Homo sapiens: one gene and its partners. The protein of the gene in region 3 purifies or fractionates together with the protein of the main gene of each other region. This does not show direct contact. Each region holds a gene or a part of one and is shown on either strand. Other genes may lie near its edges. The genes, in order: OTUD5, LIMD1 and TRIM35.

What was found.
Region 1: the proteins of TRIM35 (region 3) and OTUD5 purify together in Homo sapiens (affinity purification with mass spectrometry; 2 studies listed by BioGRID and IntAct, with this or other methods). This does not show direct contact.
Region 2: the proteins of TRIM35 (region 3) and LIMD1 purify together in Homo sapiens (affinity purification with mass spectrometry; 2 studies listed by BioGRID and IntAct, with this or other methods). This does not show direct contact.

What each region holds. Positions count from the first base shown.
Region 1 is NC_000023.11:48,923,975-48,926,671, reverse strand, and holds part of OTUD5 (OTU domain-containing protein 5), read left to right. Parts: intron 1-621; coding exon 622-825; intron 826-2,619; coding exon 2,620-2,697. UniProt on the Homo sapiens protein: Deubiquitinating enzyme that functions as a negative regulator of the innate immune system. Has peptidase activity towards 'Lys-48'- and 'Lys-63'-linked polyubiquitin chains. Can also cleave 'Lys-11'-linked ubiquitin chains (in vitro).
Region 2 is NC_000003.12:45,678,251-45,681,905, reverse strand, and holds part of LIMD1 (LIM domain-containing protein 1), read right to left. Parts: 3' UTR 1-3,655. UniProt on the Homo sapiens protein: Adapter or scaffold protein which participates in the assembly of numerous protein complexes and is involved in several cellular processes such as cell fate determination, cytoskeletal organization, repression of gene transcription, cell-cell adhesion, cell differentiation, proliferation and migration.
Region 3 is NC_000008.11:27,301,266-27,304,920, reverse strand, and holds part of TRIM35 (E3 ubiquitin-protein ligase TRIM35), read left to right. Parts: intron 1-77; exon of another isoform or gene 78-160; intron 161-3,655. UniProt on the Homo sapiens protein: E3 ubiquitin-protein ligase that participates in multiple biological processes including cell death, glucose metabolism, and in particular, the innate immune response.

The DNA of each region.
Region 1 (2,697 bases), on a different chromosome or scaffold from region 3:
TCTTTAAATTAAGGCCCAGGGCCAGGTGCAGTGGCTCACACCTATAATCCCAGCACTTTGGGAGGCCGAGTCGGGTGGATCACCTGAGGTCAGGAGTTCAAGGCCAGCCTGGCCAACATGGTGAAACCCCATTTCTACTAAAAATACAAAAAAGTTAGCCGGGGGTGGTGGCACTCACCTGTAATCCCAGCTACTTGGGAGGCTGAGGCTGGAGAATCCCTTGAACCTGGGAGGCGGAGGTTGCAGTGAGCCGAGATTACCCCACTGCACTCCAGCCTGGGCGACAGAGCGATACTTCGTCTCAGAAAAAAAAAAAAAAATAAGTCCCAGGTTGGAAGGCACCTGACTGCTCCAGTCTCAGTGCCTCAGTTGAGGTGGTTTGGGGGTTAGAGTCAGGTCTTACAAGCATAGGAGTTTGGAATGACAGGTCCCACATCCCAAGCCTGCTTTCCCTTGGTCCCCAATCAAGAGGTAGTCTGTGGAGTGTTGCTCTTTGGGAGTACCTGCTTTCCTGTCTCCTTTTTTTTCTGGGGCCTGTGGGCCTACCTCGCTGAGCCTGTTCTGGCTCTTGGGCAGGTTCAGTGTGTTATTGCACATCCCTGTTCCTCTCCCTCCTTGCAGTTTGCAGAGCAGTCTCTGATGAAGAATGCCATAAAAACATCGGAGGAGTCATGGATTGAACAGCAGATGCTAGAAGACAAGAAACGGGCCACAGACTGGGAGGCCACAAATGAAGCCATCGAGGAGCAGGTGGCTCGGGAATCCTACCTGCAGTGGTTGCGGGATCAGGAGAAACAGGCTCGCCAGGTCCGAGGCCCCAGCCAGGTGGGTCATGGACTCTGTCACAGGCTTGGCCAAAAACTCATTACTTCTCATGCTTTGCCCTCAAGCGAGCAGAAAAAAATTAAGCAGTTTTGACATCTGGGAGGGAAGGAAGCATCCAGCACCATCTGTAACTCATCTTGGTCTTAGTTTTGGCATTGTACCTTGGAACTTTAAATACTTGTGCAGAACAGGCACTTAAGGAGTGAGAGGAGGGCAGCCATGCTGCTGGTGACACGAGAATAATGGATAGCTTCAGAGACACAAGCTTTTGTTGACTGCCCTTGTGTGCCAGGTCTCTACTGAGAATGTAACATCAGATCTGGACTACTCTGCCCTCAACGATCTCGTCTGTTGGCAGAGACAACTCAATGGTGGGGTCCTTGACCCTGACTGGGAGATCAGTGGAGGTGGGGGCTCCGGTTAGTCTTCACAGAGGAAGGTTGAATTGTTAGGGGAGCGGGGAGGGGCGGGGCAGACAAGCATCTGAGGAATTGTAAAATCGCAAGGAGTTTGGAGTGATTGTAGATGTTGGCTGGCAGGAGCTGAGTTTTTTTTTTTTTTTTTTTTTGGAGACAGAGTCTTGCTCTGTCGCCCAGGCTGGAGTGCAGTGGCGCAGTCTCGGCTCACTGCAAGCTCCGCCTCCCAGGTTGATGCCATTCTCCTGCCTCAGCCTGCGGAGTAACTAGGACTACAGGCGCCCACCACCACGCCTGGCTAATTTTTTGTATTTTTAGTAGAGACGGGGTTTCACCGTGTTAGCCAGGATGGTCTCCATCTCCTGACCTCGTGATCCGACCACCTCGGCCTCCCAAAGTGCTGGGATTACAGGCGTGAGCCACCGCACCCGGCTGAAGGAGCTGAGTTTTATTCCACAAATACCTACTACCAGTCTGTGGCAGGCCCTGTTTTCAGTATATGGGGATACATAGGTGAGCCCAGCAGACCAAGATCCCCGTCCTTGTGATGTTCACAGTTTTGCAGAGTGAAATAAAATAATAAATATAATGAATAAATTAGTTGGGAAGTGCTATGGATGGAAAGTGTAGAGCCAGGATAAAGGGGCTGAGCAGGAATGTGCGTTCACGGTATGAAATAGCGCAGTCAGGGTAGGCCTCAGAGCAGGTGAGATTTGAGCCTTGCAGAAGGTGAGAGTTAGCTGAGCGCACATGGAGGGGAGGACAGCAGGCCCACACACCTGGTACAACTCAGGCACAGCCCAGAGGGAGGCCGGTGTATCCGAACAGAATGTAGTAGTAGATGAAGTCAGAGAGGTTGTGGGTCCAATTGGGTAGGGGCTTGTGGGCTGTGGCGAGGACTTTGGCATTTACTCTCAGAGAGGCAGAAACCATGGGAGGATTGTGAGCAGAGGACGGACAGGATGTGGTTGGGGATTTAATAAGATCGCCTTGCCTGCTAGTCATCCAGTGGAGTCTGGTGAGTGAGGGCAGAAGCAGGGGCCAGTGAGGAGGAGGCTACTGCAGTAGGCCAGGTGACTGGTGGCCAGTGCTGGCAGTGGAGTTGGTGAGAAGGGGTTGGATTTGAGATCTATTTTCAAGATAGAGGTAACAGGGTTTCCTGTCAGATTGGCTGTAGGGGTGTGAGAGAAAGGGTAAGGAGCTCCACCTCTGTCCTGTGAGGAGTCTTGTGGTCCACCGTGTGAGTGGGGATGATGTTGACCTACATAGAAGCTGTATCATAGCCAAGGTCCTGGGAAGGGAGCCAGCATTCAGGGATGGGTCACAAGAAGGTCATGGCTGCTGGTGGTCCTTAACGCATTTACCTTCCCCGCTGCAGCCCCGGAAAGCCAGCGCCACATGCAGTTCGGCCACAGCAGCAGCCTCCAGTGGCCTGGAGGAGTGGACTAGCCGGTCC
Region 2 (3,655 bases), on a different chromosome or scaffold from region 3:
ACATTCACAAGAGAGACAAAGTGACCTTACAAGTCACTGCATCAGGACCTTACAAGTCTCAATCTTAAAGGTCCAGTAAAAGAAACTGCTGATTCTTGGGATATGATTCTCCAAGGCCTCTCACATTTTTATACATCTGGTAAGAATAGACACCAATTGCCAGGTTCCAGACTTATATTTTCAAGGATGTTTATCTAGTGAACAGTCTTGGATGACAGAGATAGTGTCTGTCTCTGGAGCAAAAGTCAGGCAGGCTTACTGCCCATTATCAAATACCAGGGTCCCCTAAGCATGGGGGTTCCTCTTGTAATGCAGCCCACTGCGTGTGCAGGTCTCACCTGGCCCTCTTCTTGGGGCCTGGGGCTCAGGGAACCAGTGTAAATGCTGATAATCTGGCCACTGCTATTGCTATAATAAACTGTCCTTTGTCTCTGACCTATGAGTCTCATAACTTCTGCCAGGATCCATGAACCCATGTGGTGTGCTCACTTTATTAGCCTGCAAGTAGGGTAAAATCTCATACCCTTCACAGGTTTGCTACCTATGTGGTACTTTTAAGAATCCAGAGCTGTAAAAGAAGACAAAGTCCAGGTAGCAAAAAACAGTTTGCTGACTCCACACACAGAAAAGACCCAGGAAATATAATGTTCAAGGAGCACTTTAATAGTCAACAAATTGATGCAGTTTTGTCACAATACTTTGCATAATTTTATAGTAACAGTAAAATTCTGAATCACTTTATAGTAAAAGAAAAGACACAGAGGAAAATAATTTCCCTGTACAATGAAATTTTCATACACTATATGAAGATTTCCCACATCTGTCAAGTTTTGGCTCAGAATAAAAGATAGCTAATATATTTCACTCTTTTTTCTGTTACTTTTTTTTTTTTTTTTGAGACAGTGTTTCGCTCTGTTGCCCAGGTCGGAGTGCAATGGCACCATCTCGGCTCACTGCAACCTCTGCCTCCCAGGTTCAAGCGATTCTCCTGCCTCAACCTCTCAGGTAGCTGGGATTACAGGCGTGCGCCACCAAACCCAGCTAATTTTGTATTTTTAGTAGAGACAGTGTTTCACCATGTTGGTCAGGCTGGTCTCTAACTCCTGACCTTAAGTGATCCACCCGCCTCAGCCTCTCAAAGTGCTGGGATTACAGGCGTGAGCCACGGCGCCTGGGATTACAGGCATGAGCCACTGTGCCTGGCCTTTTCTATTACCTTTAAAAGTTACTTCACATAGTAAAGAAATTAGGACTGATTCTTGGCATAAAGGAGGGTACAAAAAAAAATTGTGCCAGGTACAGTGGCTAATGGCCATAATCCCAACACTTTGGGAGGCGGAAGTGGGCAGATCACTTGAGCCCAGGAGTTCCAGACCATCCTGGGCAACATGGTGAAACTCGTCTCTATTAAAAATACAAAAATTAGCCAGGCGTAGCCAGTCATACACGCCTGTGGTCCCGGCTACTCGGGAGGCTGAGGTGGGAGGATCACTTGAGCCCAGTAGGTGGAGGCTGCAGTGAGCTGAGATCGCGCCACTGCACTCCAGCCTGGGCAACAGAGTGAGGCCCTGTCTCAAAAAAAAAAAGAAAAGAAAAGAAAATTTGGTTTCCTGGCAGATAGAGTTTTAACAAGCGCATCAAGCAGTAATAATTTGTGGTCTTGTGCTCAATTCTCACACATGATCTTTGCAAGCGTCCCAGCAGCCATCACAGCTCTACTTTCACATGCATGGGACACAGCACAGAGCAGCAGCCTTGAAAGGACTGCAAAGAGGTGTGAATTCCAAACATTCTCTTAAGTCCTAACATTTCTGTTCTTCATTTTGTGTGACAGAAGCCCATGGAAACAAGGCGATGACGGCGCTTGAGGGTGACCAGACCTCCTCAATCATTCCATCAGCCACCCAGGACTCAACAGCAGAACCTCAGAGGACTCAGCTGAAAGAGGTTTTCACTCGAGCACTAACCACAGAGAAATGGGAAGTGCCATCCTGCTGTCATACGCAGCCGATGGCTGGGTAGGACTAAATGCCCTTCTGTGGTGAGATGAACCAAGACGGCAGATGGGGGAATAACATCAGTGAGAGAGAGATTACGAATGGATCCTTGTATTGCAGATCAAACTGGGTTGTCTCTTCTCAAACCACCCAGGCAGTTTCTGAATGTCCCAAGATAGGGGTAGGAGAAAAGAAAAAAAAGACAAAACAGGAGACGGTGGGTAAGAAAACCTAAAAGGCACAATGAGGCAAAGGCCTAAGATGGAGGCTGGCTTTGGGATCTGAAATCCGGCCACAATCCTCCTTGTTTTACCTCAAGTCCAAGAATTGTCAAAAAGAAAACCCAGAAGGGCTATTCATTCTAAATTTTAAAATCTTTTCTTCCTGGCCTACCAAGTCCTTGTGTTTTCTTTCTAGGCGCCCATAAATACAACCCCATTACAGTTCTATTTGGCTAATAATTTACAGAACATTTAAAATACCGGGTAGGTGAACATCTCTTCATGGCTTTTGTGTAAGGGCCTGAAGCGAAGAGAAAAACAACTGATTGGAGATTCCTATCTGGCGCCTTCTCCAGGGAAACTGACAACCAGAGAAATCTGTTGCTAGGATTTCTAGGACATCTGGAAATTCCCTTTTTGTTCTTTCTCAACAATATAAAATGGTATATTCGCAAACCTATCTGAATCACCTCAATCTAGGCCACTTTGAAAATTTCATTTAAAAATGTAATCACAGATTTTTAAACTAATTACCCAATTTGCAAACAAATCCCAGCTACTTCTGGTCTTGAACATGGAGCAAAGGTGTGTCAGTAAGGCCAACATTCTTAGGTTGACAGAGACAGGTTAACACATTGGCTGGCTTCATTTACCCCCCTGCCACGCCCCACACTGAGCTGGATGATTTGATGGGAAGAGAGGGTCCCCACCTCAGGGTTCACTTCCCCAGCCCCAGCGTTCATGGGTTTTCAGGAGGCTCAGCCTGTGAAAAAGAACCAATGATGATGCACACCCTGGCTGAAGTGACATCTGGCCAAAGGATTCCAACAGAATGAATTCCATCAACATGGAAAAGATAATCCATGGCACCAATTCTGTGCTGCTTACAGGCAATGGTTACCAAATGAGTCAAAACATGGCCTAGAAGTGGAGCCGGGCCCAATGAAAAGCCTGAGTTCACACGTGCTAGGGGCTCCACTGACCGGCCTCTGCAGCCCAGCACCCAGTCCTCTTGCTCTGGGTGCAAGGTGAGGAGGCAGAGTGCACACACCGGCTCCTGTGTCCCCGGCCTGGCTGGCAATGGTAAAATGGGCTGCCTTTCTTTTGCAGCTTCTTCTAATCGAAATACCAAAGGGTACTGACCTCTGGCCTCAGGGATGTGACTTGCAGTGCAAATTTTACCTCTTCAGTGCAGAGAGTGGTCTTGAAATCTTGCCAGTGTGTGGCCCTCCCTCAGCTCCTGCCACCCTGGGGAGCCAGGATGCTGAAATGCATAAGGCAAAAGCACTGAATCGGATCTATTCCCCACTGACCTTTAGTTACGATCACTCTGCCCTGACCAGCTGGAGTTGGGCCTGTGTGAAGCCAGTGATTTCCAACACACTGAAGAAGGTATCTGAGTCCAGTGTGAAAGCCAAATTCCTCCTGAATCTGTGA
Region 3 (3,655 bases):
TCGTGAAATTTGGGAGACTGTAGAGACTTCTCTGCTTTCATTTTTAAGGTGAGGAGCCTGATAGCCGAAGAGAGAAGGAACTTTTTACCAACTCACCAGTGGATAGTGACAAAGACAAGGCTCCAAACCAGCTCTCCTAACCTTCAGTCCAGGAGGCAAGGTATATAGCAGAAAAAACACAGGCATTCCATGTACTCATTGACTGGGCAGGTGGTTAACTGAACATCTACTTTGTGCAGGGACTTGGACATGCAGGGGACAAAACAAAGTCTCTCACCTTGCAGAGCAAGCATTCCTTCTGCAGAAGTGTACCGAGCACCACTATGCAAGGTAGAGAGGACCTGGAGGTTAAGACCTGCCCTCAGGAAAGAGAAGCTATTACCCTGGATAGTGAGTGCTGAGACAGAGGTGGCCAGGGTGCTGTGATGCCCTGGAATGGAACCTGAGCTGGCAAGATCGGGGGGCTTCCTGGAGGAAATGAGGGGTACTAGAGCCGAGTTTTCAAGGTGATGTTGGGTTAGTTGGGGGAAGCAGGTGGGAACCAGGCAGAGCAACAGTGTGTATCAAGTCTCACAAGACAGAAAACCTGGCTCAGGCCAGACAGAGCTGGTTTCACATGCAACTCTAGCACTTTGGTAAGTCCTTGCAAAGAGGCTATGAAGACCTTGTGCAATGAAATTCATTCTTTCCCTTGCCCCTACCTTCCTGCTTCCAGCTATACCACAGAGCACCTGTCCTGTTAATGAAAATTGTGGGTAACGTGATTTTGTAAAGTGCTTAAGATCTTCAATATGCAATTGAAATTTGTTGCTTAAGGAATCAACTTGTCATTTTTGGGAAATCATGTAGTCTATATGATCACATTCTGGATCCTTTAGTATGAATAAAAACCTATTTTGTGTGTGTTTATAACTAATCTTTAACGTAGGCTGGACGCGGTGGCTCATGCCTGTAATCCCAGCATTTTGGGATGCCGAGGCGGGCGGATCACCTGAGATCAGGAGTTCAAGACCAGCCTGGCCAACATGGTGAAACCCTGTCTCTACTAAAAATACAAAAATTAGTTGGGCATGGCGGCAGGCACTTGTAATCCTAGCTACTTGGGAGGCTGAGGCAAGAGAATTGCTTGAATCTGGGAGACAGAGGTTGCAGTGAGCCGAGATTGCGCCACTGCACTCTAGCCTGGACAAGAAGAATGAGACTCTATCTCAAAAAAGTAAAAAATATAAAATAAATAAATAAAAAATCTTAATGTTATAATGTGATGCTAACATCGAAGCTTGTTTGCTCTCCTGAGCTTGGGCTGGGGGATGCTCCAGATCTGTTGTGGGCCCCTGCTACTGCCCATCTCTGCTCATTCATGTGCTCCTTGGGCTACAGGCAGGCCCCTTGAGTGGTAGTTCTATTTGTAATCTAAGCATATTTAGGGTTAAAATTAATACCAAAAGCAAACAAAATAATATTGTTTAGATGCATTCAAATTCACACTTCTTACATGTCATATTTCCTAGGTGAACCACTAGATGCACAGAAGGGGAAAATGGAATAAAAAATGTGTAGTAAATTTTAAAAAAGGAAAGGAAGAAAAAGAAAAATAGAATAAGCAAGACAAATAGCTCAGAACAAGGTGGCAGATTTAAATGCAAACATATCGGTAATTATGTGTTAAATACTCCAGTTAAATGAAAATGTTGATCTGACTGGATAAGAAAACGAAACCTAATTCTGTGTTGCTTAATATAATTATCTCAGTGAGAAAACATTTGATAAAATTTACCATCTTTTTGTGTTTAAAAAAACAGGAAACTAGAAATGGAAGGAATTTCATTAGTTTGATTAAGTATATCTAGCAAAAAAACTTACAGCAAATATCACATTTAATGGCAAAACATTGAAAGCTTTCTTATTGAGATCAAGAAAAAGACAGGAATGCGCATTATGACCAACTCTATTCAGTTTTGTGTGGGATAGCCTTGTCAATGAAGTAAGCCAATAATTATAAATAAAAGATGTAAGGTTTGGAAAGAAGGGAAGCAAAACTGGCATGTGTAGATAATATGGTTGCATATTTTTGCACTGAGATTTCTATGTGTAGAAAATAAAGATTCTACAGTTAAATCATAAGTATTAATAAGTTTAGGTGAATGCTGAATCCAAAATCAAGATGCAAAACCAGTTGTATTTCTATGTATCACTAGCAAATAGAAAATAAAATATAGGCAGGGAGTTTTACACCTGTAATCCCAGCACTTTGGGAGGCTGAGGCAGGAGGATCGTTTGAGCCAAGGAGTTTCAGACCAGCTTGCACAACATAGTCCAGCCTGTCTCTACAAAAAGTTAAAACAAATTAGCCAGGTGTGGTGGTGCATGCTTGTAGTCCCAGCTACTTGGGAGGCTGAGGTGGTGGGAGGATCACTTGAGCACAGGAGGCTGCAGTGAGCTATGATTGTGCTACTACTGCACTGCAGCCTGGGTGACAGAGGGGGACCCTGTTTTGGGTTTTTTTAATTTAAAAATATGTTTACAATAATATAAAAAATAAGATAACTAGGAAGAAATTAATAAAAGATACGCAAAACTCTGATAGGGAAAAATATACTTCGTTGAGAGCTATCAAAGAACATTAAGTAACTGGTGTGATATATTATGTTCGTGGATTAGTAAAGTCAGTATTTAAGCCTTTCAGTTTTCCCCAAATTGATCTATAGAGACAATATTGTACTAATCTAAATCTCAACATGATTATTTTTATGCAACTTCACAGATTCTAAAATTTATATGACCCTCAAAGGGCCAAAAATTGCCAAGACATTCTTGAAGAGAAACCTATCAGAAATCCTCTCTTTTTTACAGCTATAGAAATTATGGCTGTGTGATGTTGGCACAAGGATAAACAGATGGGCCAGAGAAACAGATGGAGAGAACCAAAAAACAGATCTGTGTCTGATTTAAGACAGAGGTGGCTCTGCAGACCAGTGGGCAGTAATGGTCTTTTTAAATAATGGTGCTGAGACAATGAGCTACCTGGTCACACCATGTGCAAAAATAAACTCCAGGTATCCACATCAGACCTAAATGTGAAAGGAAAGCTATAAAGCTTTGAGAAAATACTACAGAGCTATACAATAATAATGCAAAGCTATAAAGCTTTGAGGAAATAATACGATTGTTTTTGTGATCTCAGTGTAGGGAGGTGTTTCTTAAAACTAGTATACTAATCCTAAAGGAAAAGACTAATAAATTTGGCCATATTTCAATTAAGAAAGATAAATGATGAAGTAGAAAATATTCATTACACCTCTAACTAATCAAGGACATACATTGTGTATATATAATAAATTCCCACAAACCAGTTAGGAAAATGGCAGGCAACGCAATGGAAAAATGGACAATACTTTACTGAGTACTTAAAAATAAACATTGAAGTGGTCAATAAACATTTTCTATTAACATTGCTCTTGCTGTAAAAATTGGTACCACTGCTTTGGAAAACAATTTGGCATTACGCAGTAAAGTGAAGACACATATGGTGGCCCAGCAGTTTTATCCCCAGGAATATATTATGAAGAAACGAGTTCCCATGTGTCCCCAGGAGACATGTACAAGAAGGTTACCTCCTCTGGGTCTAACTTGATCCTCTGTATAATGGGACTCA